Linked DNA regions of Homo sapiens. The protein of the gene in region 1 interacts with the protein of each later gene in a biochemical or structural test. Each region holds a gene or a part of one and is shown in the gene's direction. Other genes may lie near its edges.

What was found. The genes of interacting proteins can lie anywhere in the genome.
Region 2: the proteins of APBA2 (region 1) and FZD10 interact in a test that uses a peptide from one of them, tested with the Homo sapiens proteins (one large-scale study listed by IntAct).
Region 3: the proteins of APBA2 (region 1) and RAMP3 interact in a test that uses a peptide from one of them, tested with the Homo sapiens proteins (one large-scale study listed by IntAct).
Region 4: the proteins of APBA2 (region 1) and AXIN1 interact in a test that uses a peptide from one of them, tested with the Homo sapiens proteins (one large-scale study listed by IntAct).

Annotation. Positions count from the first base shown.
Region 1 is NC_000015.10:29,102,474-29,105,973, forward strand, and holds part of APBA2 (amyloid-beta A4 precursor protein-binding family A member 2), read left to right. Parts: intron 1-2,905; coding exon 2,906-3,085; intron 3,086-3,500. UniProt on the Homo sapiens protein: Putative function in synaptic vesicle exocytosis by binding to STXBP1, an essential component of the synaptic vesicle exocytotic machinery. May modulate processing of the amyloid-beta precursor protein (APP) and hence formation of APP-beta.
Region 2 is NC_000012.12:130,161,219-130,165,263, forward strand, and holds the start of FZD10 (frizzled-10 precursor), read left to right. Parts: upstream 1-1,245; 5' UTR 1,246-1,724; coding exon 1,725-3,470; 3' UTR 3,471-4,045. UniProt on the Homo sapiens protein: Receptor for Wnt proteins. Functions in the canonical Wnt/beta-catenin signaling pathway.
Region 3 is NC_000007.14:45,181,791-45,184,750, forward strand, and holds the end of RAMP3 (receptor activity-modifying protein 3 precursor), read left to right. Parts: intron 1-1,366; coding exon 1,367-1,622; 3' UTR 1,623-2,460; downstream 2,461-2,960. UniProt on the Homo sapiens protein: Accessory protein that interacts with and modulates the function of G-protein coupled receptors including calcitonin gene-related peptide type 1 receptor (CALCRL), calcitonin receptor (CALCR) and G-protein coupled estrogen receptor 1 (GPER1).
Region 4 is NC_000016.10:286,940-290,331, reverse strand, and holds the end of AXIN1 (axin-1), read left to right. Parts: intron 1-724; coding exon 725-892; intron 893-2,083; coding exon 2,084-2,210; 3' UTR 2,211-2,892; downstream 2,893-3,392. Other genes in the region: PDIA2 (protein disulfide-isomerase A2 precursor), read right to left, coding at 3,219-3,263, 3,387-3,392. UniProt on the Homo sapiens protein: Component of the beta-catenin destruction complex required for regulating CTNNB1 levels through phosphorylation and ubiquitination, and modulating Wnt-signaling.

The DNA of each region.
Region 1 (3,500 bases):
GCTGGGCACGGTAGTTCATGCCTGTAATCCCAACACTTTTGGGAGGCTGAGGTGCGTGGATCACCTGAGGTCAGGAGTTCAAAACCAGCCTGGCCAACATTGCGAAACCCTAGTCTCTACTAAAGATACAAAAAAATTAGCCAAGCTTGGTGGTGCGTGCCTGTAATCCCAGCTACGTGGGAGGCTGAGGCAGGAGAATTGCTTGAACCTGGGAGGCGGAGATTGCAGTGAGCTGAGATCGTGCCATTGCACTCCAGCCTGGGTGACAAGAGTGAAACTCCGTCTCAAAAAAAAAAAAAAATCTATCCTTCAGGGGCAGTTGGCCAGGGCGTTCTTTTTCACATAAGGACTTGAGGCTGTCTCAGGGACCTGGGCAATAGGGAAGGGTCCCCATATTGTCATGATCCTGACATACAGCATGGAAACTGAAGACAGGGTTCAAACCTTTGGCTGGCGCAGTCATCTTCTTCCTAAGAACTTGGGTCCACTTGAAGTGCTTCGGCGCAATGGCAGATTTACAGGAGGGAGAGAGCATTTCAACAGCGCACTCACACATTCCTTCCACCGCTACACGGAGACCCTTCGAAACCTGGATGGGTATTTCTGTGTGACTGAGGGCCGAGGATGTGTGAGAGACCTGGCTTGGGGATGGGCCACAGGTACTGGCGGAATGAGGCCAGGAGCAGGCCCGGTGGCGAAGGGTGGCAGTCAGCTGGTGAGAGTTTCCAAGGGGCACTGAGAGCCCCCAGGTGCAGCCGATGCGGAGGGTTAAAGCCAGGGTATGCCGTATTGGGTAGATGAGGCCGCAGGGTGGTCCTGCCAGCAACAGCAGCCTCCTCTTCCCCACCTCTCCAGCGCCTGCAGGCTCTGCCCACAGCCCACTTGCAGGAGGCCGCTTGAGCCCTGAGGTGGGGCCTGGGCTGGGCTCCTGGACTCACAGCAGTGAACGCCCACAGGCTTGGCTGCGAGTTGGGGCCGGCAGGGCGACCCCTTCTCTGAAGCGCCAGCCGCAGAGAGAGCCCCCTGAACCCCACACCTCCCAGGAGGCAGCCGGTACCCGGCGTGGAGTGACGGGGAGGCGGCGGCTGGCGGCACACCAGCGGCCCAGATGACACCGGAAGGAGGCGCAGCCCCGCGGAGCCGGCTCCCCGGGCTTGGAGCTTCCGCGGGGGCGGAGGATGTCGTCCAAGGGGAGGAAGAATGGCGGTGGCCCGAGGGAGCCCAAGTGGAGTCCGAGGGCCGTGGGTGGTGGAGCCGGGCCTCCGGGGCTCCAGGGCTCTCAGGCCGTCCTTCCCAGCCAGGTGGCCTCGTCAGGCGGAGACAGAAGCAGAGGCCTGGGGGCCGCCCTCCGCTCTTCCCAAAGGCCCGACCCTCTCCTGCGCGGGCGCTGCCCCCGGCCCTCCTGCCGAGCCCCATCAGCTCGCCAACTCCGCAGGCCAGCCCGGCGGCGCCATCTGGCGGTCCCCGGGCGTCGCGCCTCCAGCTGGGTCTGTGCGCGCGGCAGAGATGCTGGGCGTGGGAACCGGCAAGTCCTGGAAACGGCTTAGGGCCCGTCAGGGAGGGCAGTTCCACGCCTGCTGGAGGGCAGGCCGCCTGCTGCGCGCTTCTAATCCGGCCCAGCTTGTCTTTCCCAATGCATACATTCATCTGCTGCTCTTACATCCTGCCACGTGGAGAGTGGGAAGGGAATTGAGGCCAAAGCCCTTGTTTTCACCTGTTTTGGGATCCTGTTGAGTAGGAGTTTGCTGGGGGCGCCCGTGCAGGACCCCCTTGAGGGCAGTTGGGGAGGCACGTGAGGAGCAGGACAGCGCATAAGGAGGGCTCACACAGCCCAGAGCCTGGCGGGAGGCCCCGCTGTGGGCTGAGGCGTCACCAAGGCCGCCAAGAGCCCCGCCGCGCTCCCAGGGCTGCACAGCTGCCAGCCTGCTTGGCGAGCTCCGGGAGCTCAGTACAGCCCTCACCTCCCACTGTCTCCTGTCTGCGCACCAGCAGGCGGCCGGCCAGGCCCTGAGTGCTGTTTCAGTGTCCAGGCCTTTGCCATGTCAGAGTCGGTGATGTCCACTGAAGCAGCTCAGCGGAAGTAGAAAGAAGTGACGTGCTTCATGGGGCCTGTGTGGAGTCCCAGGTCTCATGTCTTGCAGGCCTGGCCTGGCACAGCCACACATCCCTAGAAGAGCAGCCAGGCACACCCTCTGCCTCCAGTGGGCACTGGGTTCTGTTGCTACCGATAAATACATGCGGGGTAGACAACTAGCAGCACGATGCTCCCGGAAAACACACTGAAAGTCCATTTTCGGCATCAGATGAGTGGAAAGGAAATACAGATGGGGTCAGGTGCAGTGGCTCACACCTGCAATGCCAACAGTTTGGGAGGCCAAGGCAGGAGGATCACTTATGTCCAGGAGTTTGAGACCAGCCTGGGCAATATGGCAAGACCCCTATCTCTACAAGAAAACTTTTTTTAATTAGCTGGATGTGGTTGTGCTCACCTACATTCCCACTCCAGTCTGGGCAACAGAGCCAGACCTCATCTCGAAAGAAAAAAAAAGCAACAAAAATATGACATGTAGTAAATAATTCATTGTTGTCCCAGACTTTCTTTGAAACAGCTTTGACCTGGAGCATCTGGGCCGTGCCACAGCTTAGGCAGGGACAGTCAGGAGTAGACCCTTTGGGGTTCAGGGCAACACTGGGGTTCGCTCACGGTGGAGTGCTGGTGGGAGACAGCCTTCATCAGATGAGGGAGGGCCCCCAGTTTCTTTCTTGTTCTTCTAAGCCCGAGCAAGGGCTCCCTTGAAGGCTTATGGGTGCATCCTGCACCCAGCCCTGCCGCAGCCCCCTGCTGAGGAGGCTGCGGGGAGCCTGTGCCACGTGCCTGTCTCCAGCTGGCCTGCCCTCTGCACAGGCCCAGCTCATCGCCCAGTCTATCGGCCAGGCCTTCAGCGTGGCCTACCAGGAGTTCCTGCGAGCCAATGGCATCAACCCCGAAGACTTGAGCCAGAAGGAATACAGCGACATCATCAACACCCAGGAGATGTACAACGACGACCTCATCCACTTCTCAAACTCGGAGAACTGCAAGGAGGTAAGCCACACCCACCAGCCTCAGGGAGGCCACATTTGCCAGCTTCTGCTCCCTGAGCTCCTGCAGAGCGAGCCTTCCCGGGGTCCTCACGCACACCCTTGCCTTCCTATCAGACTCCAGTGGGGCCCGGAATGTGCACCTCGCTCCTGCCTTCCAGCTGAGCACTTGGGTGTGAAATGAGGTGTTTGTAACAAAGAAGCTGATTACAGTCAGCTTTAATGACCTCGAAAATGCGCCTTTTAATGCTGCTATTATCATCAACCAGCACTCAGCACCCAGGAGATATTTCTGAAAAGCATGTGGCATCTCTAAAGGGAGCCTGGGGGCTCTGGCAGAGGAGGCTGGAAGCCACCAGTAGCAGAGGCCTTAGCTGGTCCCAGTGGCTTCCCCCAGGGGACTTTGGAAAGTTCTTATG
Region 2 (4,045 bases), on another chromosome or scaffold:
GCGGGGGAAGGGAATGGCGGGGGGACGTCGTGTCCTAAGTGACCCCGTCACAGACCCGCCCCAATCCGAGGGGGGATGAGCTCAGAGGACCTGCCCAGGACGCTCCTTCTCCACTTTCCAGGAAAACCGAGCGGCGTGCGCGCCTCCGTGTCCTCGCGGGAGCTGGGGGTCCCCGGGCAGGCGCTGACGCGCTCCTCCCACGACCCACTCCATCCCACCCTACTCCGGGTCCTCCTGCGGGGCTGCAGCCAAGGAGGGCGCTGGCCGGGCACATCACTCGCCAAATCACATAAATACCCCACGAGCGAATGACTTCCTATAATAAATAAACTCAGCCGCCAAGAAGGCATCTCCAGCCCTGCTGGCGCGAGGCCCCGGCTCTGCGGCTTCGGAGGGGGCGGGGGTCACCGCGGTACAAACCAAGCCCGCACTTCCCGCGGGGTGGGAGGCGGTGTTCAAAGTCCCGGGACGCTTCCCGCCCCTCCCCCTTCCCGCCTTCTTAGAGGAGACCTCGGATGAGCGGCCCTAAAATCCGGATTCTCGAGCCCCTCCCCCTCCCCTTAGCTCGTCTCTTTGAAATTTCAAAGAAAATCCCTCCTCGGAGCCCGGAGCCCGGGGCTGGTAGCACCTCCCCAGCCTCAGGAAGATGCGGGCAGGTTTACAAGCAAGGGCCTACTTTATGGCCCAGGCTATAAAACGCAAATCCCACCTCCCTTTGAAAGCGCCCTCCGCCCGGGACTCACCATAAAAGGAAGAGAAGATGCACCCCGCGCCCCTCGCCGCGGACCACCCCCAAACCCCTTCTCCCGCCAGTCCCCGAACTTCCCGTAACCTCGGCGTCCTCGGGGTGCCGGGGACCATCCCGGGGACCGCCGGGAAAGGGGGCGCCGGCGGAGAGGATAGCGAGAGGCAAAGTTGGAGGCCAGGCAGAGAGAGGGCGAGGAGAGGCGGGCGGGACTGCCGGGGAGGGTCGCAGCGCGCAGAGCCCCGCGCGCCAGGCGGGCTGTCCCGGGGCTGGCGGGCGACGCGGGCGGGACTAGGCGCTGCGCCCCCCGCAGGCTGGGCTGCAGGCCGGGGGGGATCGGCCCCCGCGGGGCCCGGGAGCCCGCGGCGGGGCGGCGGGGAGGAGGCTGCCCCGGGCCGCTGCGCTTTCTCATGCAAAGCAGCGGCGGGGCGGGGCGCGCGGCCCGGGGGCGGGGCCTGTCAGCGCTCGGCTTTTCTGCCCCCCTTTGCCTTTTTGCGAGTCTTCTCATCCCGGGACGCAAACCTCGAAACAGCTGCCGGCTGGTCCCGGCCGAGGCCGGCGCAGGGAGGGAGGAGCCGCCCGGGCTGTGGGGGCGCCGCGAGCTGGGCCGGCCTCGGTGTGCCCGCGCCGCCAGCCCGCTCCAGACGCGCCACCTGGGCGCTCCAAGAAGAGGCCGAAGTTTGCCGCGGCCGTGAGTTGGAGCTCGCGCCGGGCCGCTGCGCCGGGAGCTCCGGGGGCTTCCCTCGCTTCCCGGTATTGTTTGCAAACTTTGCTGCTCTCCGCCGCGGCCCCCAACTCGGCGGACGCCGGGCGCGGAGAGCCGAGCCGGGGGCGCTGTGCGCAGCGCTCGGGCCAGGCCGGGCGGGCATGGGCGGGGGCCCGAGCAGGGGTGGAGAGCCGGGGCCAGCAGCAGCCCGTGCCCGGGAGCGGCGGCGCTGAGGGGCGCGGAGCTCCCCGCGAGGACACGTCCAACGCCAGCATGCAGCGCCCGGGCCCCCGCCTGTGGCTGGTCCTGCAGGTGATGGGCTCGTGCGCCGCCATCAGCTCCATGGACATGGAGCGCCCGGGCGACGGCAAATGCCAGCCCATCGAGATCCCGATGTGCAAGGACATCGGCTACAACATGACTCGTATGCCCAACCTGATGGGCCACGAGAACCAGCGCGAGGCAGCCATCCAGTTGCACGAGTTCGCGCCGCTGGTGGAGTACGGCTGCCACGGCCACCTCCGCTTCTTCCTGTGCTCGCTGTACGCGCCGATGTGCACCGAGCAGGTCTCTACCCCCATCCCCGCCTGCCGGGTCATGTGCGAGCAGGCCCGGCTCAAGTGCTCCCCGATTATGGAGCAGTTCAACTTCAAGTGGCCCGACTCCCTGGACTGCCGGAAACTCCCCAACAAGAACGACCCCAACTACCTGTGCATGGAGGCGCCCAACAACGGCTCGGACGAGCCCACCCGGGGCTCGGGCCTGTTCCCGCCGCTGTTCCGGCCGCAGCGGCCCCACAGCGCGCAGGAGCACCCGCTGAAGGACGGGGGCCCCGGGCGCGGCGGCTGCGACAACCCGGGCAAGTTCCACCACGTGGAGAAGAGCGCGTCGTGCGCGCCGCTCTGCACGCCCGGCGTGGACGTGTACTGGAGCCGCGAGGACAAGCGCTTCGCAGTGGTCTGGCTGGCCATCTGGGCGGTGCTGTGCTTCTTCTCCAGCGCCTTCACCGTGCTCACCTTCCTCATCGACCCGGCCCGCTTCCGCTACCCCGAGCGCCCCATCATCTTCCTCTCCATGTGCTACTGCGTCTACTCCGTGGGCTACCTCATCCGCCTCTTCGCCGGCGCCGAGAGCATCGCCTGCGACCGGGACAGCGGCCAGCTCTATGTCATCCAGGAGGGACTGGAGAGCACCGGCTGCACGCTGGTCTTCCTGGTCCTCTACTACTTCGGCATGGCCAGCTCGCTGTGGTGGGTGGTCCTCACGCTCACCTGGTTCCTGGCCGCCGGCAAGAAGTGGGGCCACGAGGCCATCGAAGCCAACAGCAGCTACTTCCACCTGGCAGCCTGGGCCATCCCGGCGGTGAAGACCATCCTGATCCTGGTCATGCGCAGGGTGGCGGGGGACGAGCTCACCGGGGTCTGCTACGTGGGCAGCATGGACGTCAACGCGCTCACCGGCTTCGTGCTCATTCCCCTGGCCTGCTACCTGGTCATCGGCACGTCCTTCATCCTCTCGGGCTTCGTGGCCCTGTTCCACATCCGGAGGGTGATGAAGACGGGCGGCGAGAACACGGACAAGCTGGAGAAGCTCATGGTGCGTATCGGGCTCTTCTCTGTGCTGTACACCGTGCCGGCCACCTGTGTGATCGCCTGCTACTTTTACGAACGCCTCAACATGGATTACTGGAAGATCCTGGCGGCGCAGCACAAGTGCAAAATGAACAACCAGACTAAAACGCTGGACTGCCTGATGGCCGCCTCCATCCCCGCCGTGGAGATCTTCATGGTGAAGATCTTTATGCTGCTGGTGGTGGGGATCACCAGCGGGATGTGGATTTGGACCTCCAAGACTCTGCAGTCCTGGCAGCAGGTGTGCAGCCGTAGGTTAAAGAAGAAGAGCCGGAGAAAACCGGCCAGCGTGATCACCAGCGGTGGGATTTACAAAAAAGCCCAGCATCCCCAGAAAACTCACCACGGGAAATATGAGATCCCTGCCCAGTCGCCCACCTGCGTGTGAACAGGGCTGGAGGGAAGGGCACAGGGGCGCCCGGAGCTAAGATGTGGTGCTTTTCTTGGTTGTGTTTTTCTTTCTTCTTCTTCTTTTTTTTTTTTTATAAAAGCAAAAGAGAAATACATAAAAAAGTGTTTACCCTGAAATTCAGGATGCTGTGATACACTGAAAGGAAAAATGTACTTAAAGGGTTTTGTTTTGTTTTGGTTTTCCAGCGAAGGGAAGCTCCTCCAGTGAAGTAGCCTCTTGTGTAACTAATTTGTGGTAAAGTAGTTGATTCAGCCCTCAGAAGAAAACTTTTGTTTAGAGCCCTCCCTAAATATACATCTGTGTATTTGAGTTGGCTTTGCTACCCATTTACAAATAAGAGGACAGATAACTGCTTTGCAAATTCAAGAGCCTCCCCTGGGTTAACAAATGAGCCATCCCCAGGGCCCACCCCCAGGAAGGCCACAGTGCTGGGCGGCATCCCTGCAGAGGAAAGACAGGACCCGGGGCCCGCCTCACACCCCAGTGGATTTGGAGTTGCTTAAAATAGACTCCGGCCTTCACCAATAGTCTCTCTGCAAGACAGAAACCTC
Region 3 (2,960 bases), on another chromosome or scaffold:
GTGGCTGAGGCCCAGGAGAGCCAACAGCTTTGTACTTGGATTCGAGGCTGTTTCTTTTGCTCTGGCTGTTCTCTGCTGACACTACCTGGAAAGGCACAGGTGTGTGTCTGACCTACATTCCAAGGTGCTGAGAGCCAGCCTTGGATCAGTCAGGAGCTGGGCTGAGTGACTGTACCTGGGCTTCCCAGACCCTTCCTGGGGCATGGGGTTGGGAGACCAGGAGAACCCTGGGTGGAGTAGGTCAGAGTCCCTGTTTCCTACCCCTTTCTGATGCTTTGGGAAATCTACGCCCAGATGATGTTCCATGCAGGAGGCAGCTCTTTCCTGTTGATGGGCCAGATCAGTGGCTCCCTCCTGGGACAGCGCGGGAAGGAGGAGATGGGCTACTTTCCCATGGGGAAGCCGAGGCAGGACCCTTCACACTCCTGCATCTGTACTCATGCAGCACAGACGTGGGGAAGTGCTAGCCCTGCACAGAGGGGGTGGCATCTGGGCAGGAGTCCATCTAGCTTCGTCTAGAACATCCTGAATGAGTGGCTGCCACTCTAGGCCTTGCAGACCCCAATGACAGGGAGGTCATCACCTCCACAGGCTGCCCATTGGAACAGGTGGTGGCTGGGAAGTCCTTTATGCTGAGTTGACCTCTGGGTCTTGGTGGCTATAGCCCTTGGTCAGCATGAGGACTGTCCAGAGCCTGTGCTGGGCGGTCATGGAGCATCATGGGTGGTTTGCTGAGTGCCCTTCCCATCTTTGATCTCATGGACAGGGGGACCCACAGGAGGGGGCTCCACATGTCCTGCTAGATGGGGCTGAAGGAGGCAACTTCTGAGTAGGAGATGAAGAGGCAGGGACTGGGGCTCACAGGTCTGACTCCCACTTGGCCACCACCTGGCACATGAGGGCAGGCTGACTTGATTAGGAGGTGGCTGGCCCCTGGCCTCAGAGAGACCCTCCTCTCAGGCTCTTAGGGTATCCTGGATGATGAAGGCTTTGCAGGTCCAAGCGGCTGTGATCCAGGCACCCTTTGGCCCTGGAGAAGCATGGCTTGGTGTGTCCTCTGGGCAGACCTGCGTAGTGCTTAGAGGTCCAGGGAAGCTGGGCTGAGACCCTGGATCCTGGGAGCTCATGGCCTCAAAGGCAGCAAGTCATGGTCATTGTGATGCAAATGTGGGCAGGGGACACAGGGAATGGGTCATGGGCACAGATGACCCTGTGGCCAGAATGGGGATTTTCCAAGGCTGGGCTGTGAATAGGTGGCCAAATGGGACTGTACCCAAGCCACCCCACCCATCTTCCTGGCCTCAGGTCAGGGCAGGTGTGAGGGGGGATGGCGAGAGCCTGGCTTTCACCCCCTCTGCTTTTGCAGGTACTATGAGAGTTTCACCAACTGCACCGAGATGGAGGCCAATGTCGTGGGCTGCTACTGGCCCAACCCCCTGGCCCAGGGCTTCATCACCGGCATCCACAGGCAGTTCTTCTCCAACTGCACCGTGGACAGGGTCCACTTGGAGGACCCCCCAGACGAGGTTCTCATCCCGCTGATCGTTATACCCGTCGTTCTGACTGTCGCCATGGCTGGCCTGGTGGTGTGGCGCAGCAAACGCACCGACACGCTGCTGTGAGGGTCCCGGTGAGATGGAGTGGGTCACACCTGGCAAGCTGGAAGAAAGTTCCCTGGGGATGGGAGAGCGGGTGGGTGCTGCCAATCTCCAGCTACTGTGGCCACACCCCACCTGGTCATGGGCAGACCCCTCCCTTCCTGGGCTGACCTGCTCCCTCGAGGCCAGCCTGCTCCCTGGCTGAGGCTCAGGCTATCCGCCCAAGCTCTTTGCTCATTCTAGGGCCAGTGGAGGAAAATGTGATAAGGCCAGAGCTTGTGTGCTGGGCACAGAAATCACCTGCTGCATCCTGTGCTCCGCAGGCTGGGCCGGAGCCTCTGCCCGCAGGTTTCTATGCTGTTTCTTAGCACAGAATCCAGCCTAGCCTTAGCCGCAGTCTAGGCCCTGCTTGGACTAGGACTCCTTGCTTGACCCCATCTCTGGTTCCTGCCCTGGCTCCTGCACCAGCCCCAGCTCCTGCCTACATCCAGGCAGAAAGATAGGCAGGGGCTCTTGGAAGACGTTCCGTGCTGTGACCTCCGAGCCCTCCTGGTGGGAAGACAGCTGGAAAGGCTGGGAGGAGAAGGGAGGGGCTGGGGGTTCCCAGGAGCCATGCGTGGCCTGCAGAGTCCATTCCATCATGATGCTGTGCCCGCTATGGGCTGTGTCCATGACCAGAGGCTGGAGTGGGGGTGTGTTAGAGCCCCTCACCGGGACTTGCTGTGCGGATGGGGCCTGGGCCTCCTTCCTACAGGGGCTCCTCTGTGGGTGAGGGGCCCTCTGGAATGGCATCCCATGAGCTTGTGGCCTCTATCTGCTACCATCTGTGTTTTATCTGAGTAAAGTTACCTTACTTCTGGAATTTCCTGTTTTGTTTCATGTTATTCAGAGAGACGGTGCATCTCTTGGGACTGATGAGTCCCCTGTACATATTGTACAGATAGGGAACAACTGAGGTTCTGGAATCCCAGAATGTCAGCGCTTAGGGGGCTCAGAGAGTGTTACAATAGGAGAGGGGCCTGACAGGAGGAGGGACTTGCCTAGCTACTCGCAGCCCCTTGGGCACTTCCCATCCCTGACCCATTGGTTTGAGGATGACAGGGAAGATTTCTCTCTCTTCTGTTTTCCCTTTGCAGCTGCCTTGGGCTTGCTAGGACCCCTGCCTGGGTTTTCTGGGGACCGAGAGGCCCTGGTCAGGTCTGGCTGGAGGCAGATGCTGGTCCTGGGGGGTCCCTAGAGCAGGTGGAGGGGCTTTATCTCCAGGCCTCTGGCCAGGCCCTTGTCCAGGCTCCAGTTCTGTGGACCTGTGTCTTTTGCATGTGGGCTGTTGGATCCAGGATCTTCTTGCTGGATCCCAGGACC
Region 4 (3,392 bases), on another chromosome or scaffold:
CTTCCTGCCCTGGTGTTGGCTCTGGAAGCCTCTGGTGCACCCAGCCAGGAGGAGGCCCAAGGGCTGAACCCCAGTGGGCCAGGGGCAGCTTCTGGAGTCACTTGAAGGACAGGTGGCGGCGGGGTAGCCGAGTGGGGGGTGCGAGAGCAACCAGGCCCCGCCCGTCATCCCGGCACGGCTGTGGAAGCACAGCACCTGTCAGAGGAGGGCCCGGCTCAGCCTGGGCAGGAGACGGTGCCAGCCCTGCCCCCTCTGAAGGGCCTGCTGGCCACCCCCGCCCCAGTCCTCCGACAAACTTCGCTGCGGGGTCAGGCTTATCCAGAAATCGTGCACAGTTCTGTTTGTCCAATCCCTGCCCTTCAGATGTTTTTAAGGTTTGGGGGCCGTAGGTCTTCCTGAGATAGGAGCCCTGCAGCCTGCCCTGCCATCCTAGAGGTGGGAGCTGCAGTGCACCTGGCAGCCAGGCCCTGGCCAGTCGAGGGTGGGGCTGTGAGGCAGCAGGGAGACCTTCGTGCTCCCAGTGAGCGGAGCCGACTCCACTGCTAGCGGACTAGATCCCAGATTGAGATGCTGTGCGGGGGCTGCGGGCCCCAGGTGTTTGAATGGGGTGCTGCTCACCCCTGCAGGCCTGCCCCGCCTTACACTGGCAGCCTGAGGCCAGCAGGAGGGACCCTGTGGGACCTCAGTCCAAAACCAGGTACCACCGCTGCATCTCTTTCCCCAGGACAAGATCGCAGAGGAAGGTGGGCGGCGGGAGTGCCCAGCCGTGTGACAGCATCGTTGTGGCGTACTACTTCTGCGGGGAACCCATCCCCTACCGCACCCTGGTGAGGGGCCGCGCTGTCACCCTGGGCCAGTTCAAGGAGCTGCTGACCAAAAAGGGCAGCTACAGGTGAGTGTGAGGGCTGGGGTGCCCCCTCCCCGCACGAGTATGTGGGTGCCCAACGGTATGAAAAAGAGGGTTTCCAGCCGGGCACAGTGGCTCACGTCCTAATCCTGGCACTTTGGGAGGCTGAGGTGGGCGGATTGCCTCAGCTCAGCAGTTCGAGACCAGCCTGGGCAACATGGTGAAACCCCGTCTCTACTAAAAATACTAAAGAAATTAGCCAGGTGTGCTACTTGGGAGGCTGAGGCAGAATTGCTTGAACTCGGGAGGCAGAGGTTGCAGTGAGCTGAGATCACGCCACTGCTCTCCAGCCTGGGTGACAGAGCGAGACTCTGTCTCTACCCCCGCCCAAAAAAAAAAAAAGAAGAAAAAGGGCTTCCGGCCATTTCAGCTCATGTCCCTCATCTGCAACTAAAGCCACTTCTCCAAGCCCTAGGCTGAGGGTGGCATCAGGCTTTCGGCCCCACAGGACTGAGAGGGTCCAAAGGGACCCCCGTCCAGGGCCCTCATCTTCGGGGTGGGAAAACAGAGGCCAGACCCCTAGACGACGATGGTCTGAACCTTGTGTTAGGCTCCCCTAGGCCGACCTTGTCTCCAGGCTCTGGACTCATGTGCTTTTGCCTGACTGAAAAGCCAAGCCCCCTCCTACCAAGGTTCATTCGCCCTGGGCCACTCAGCCCTGCAGGGCCCTGCGTGCAGCCAGCCTTGGAGGCTCCCGAGTGAGCACTGGGCGGTGAGCAGAGGGGGCCTGACCCCAAGAGCCTGGCAGAGCCTGGCGGGTGGTTCCCACCGTCCACAAGCCACTGTGCAAACACCCCATGACTGCAGATGTGGTGCTGAGGGAGGGCCCCAGTTGGGGTCACCTCCATGACGGGGCTCAGCCCTTGGGAAGCAGACACCCCACACCCGTCCACTTCCCCCCTGCAACTCCTGAGAGGCTGGGGCAGGTACTCCCAGGGGGATGTGGGGTGCTCCCAGCAGGCAGTGAACTCACCCCCCATGGCTGCCCACTTCACCCACATGTGGTCATTGCACTGTTCACTGTTGCCCTGGGAGGGGGCGCACATGCAGTGGGGGCCGTGGGGCATGGACAGGAGGCTCCTCGGGATGGGGTGTGGACACGCCGTCCCCTGCCACAGGCCTCCTTCCCATCTGCGGTGCTGCCTGCTCACTGCCCTCCTCACCTCCGTCCTGCAGATACTACTTCAAGAAAGTGAGCGACGAGTTTGACTGTGGGGTGGTGTTTGAGGAGGTTCGAGAGGACGAGGCCGTCCTGCCCGTCTTTGAGGAGAAGATCATCGGCAAAGTGGAGAAGGTGGACTGATAGGCTGGTGGGCTGGCCGCTGTGCCAGGCGAGGCCCTTGGCGGGCACGGGTGTCACGGCCAGGCAGATGACCTCGTACTCAGGAGCCCGATGGGGAACAGTGTTGGGTGTACCACCCATCCCTGTGGTCTACCCGTGTCTAGAGGCAGGTAGGGGGTCCCTCCAAGTGGTCCACAAGCTTCTGTCCTGCCCCCAAGGAGGCAGCCTGGACCACTCCTCATAGCAATACTTGGAGGGCCCAGCCCAAGTGAGGCAGCCGAGGTCCCTGCTGCCAGCTTCAGGTGACCCCCCCCCATCCCCCGGCACCTCCCTTGGGCACGTGTGCTGGGATCTACTTTCCCTCTGGGATTTGCCCACGTACCCAGGTCTGGGTGGGGCCCAGGCCCGGATGCAGAGGCCTGCAGGGCCTCTGTCAATTGTACGCGCCACCGAGTGCCTTCAACACAGCTTGTCTCTTGCCTGCCACTGTGTGAATCGGCGACGGAGCACTGCACCTGCCTCCAGCCGCCGGCTGTGCAGTCCTGGGTCCTCCTTTCTGAGGGCCCGTGTAAATATGTACATTTCTCAGGCTAGGCCAGCAGGGGCTGCCCGAGTCTGTTTTTCATGCGATGACACTTGTACAATTAATTATCTTTTCAAAGGTACTTGGATAATAATGAAATAAAACTGTTTTTGAACCTGCCCTGGCTGTGGTGTGTCTTCTGCGGGTGGGGCCTGGCCTAGGTCTCCCAGCCTCAGCCCCCGTGGTAAAGGAGGGCACACTGGCCTCCAGCAGGCATGGGGATCACCTGTGACTCAGAGGCTGGCAGGGCTAGAGCAGGAACGTGCTCCACCTTCCTGCCCTGGAGCCCCCAGCTGGGCAGAGCTGCATCAGGCCAGCCTTGCTGAGGGACCAGGCACACAGAGTCCAGAACCAAGCTCACTCTTTATTCACAATGCACAGCTCCCTCTGGTACCCAAGGGGGTGGCTCCTGTCCAGCAGTGATGGCGGGGGTGACACGGGGGCAGCTACAGTTCCTCCTTGGACCCCATAGTGGAGTTGGCCGGTGGCTCCTAGAAAGGGTCACAAGTGCAGCTCGAAGCTCTGCTCCCAGCCTACCCCTGCCCCCGCCCCTGCCAGCCCTGTGTAAAGAGGATTTGTGCAGAGGCCTGGAGCCCTGGCTTAGGGACACCCACCGGGAA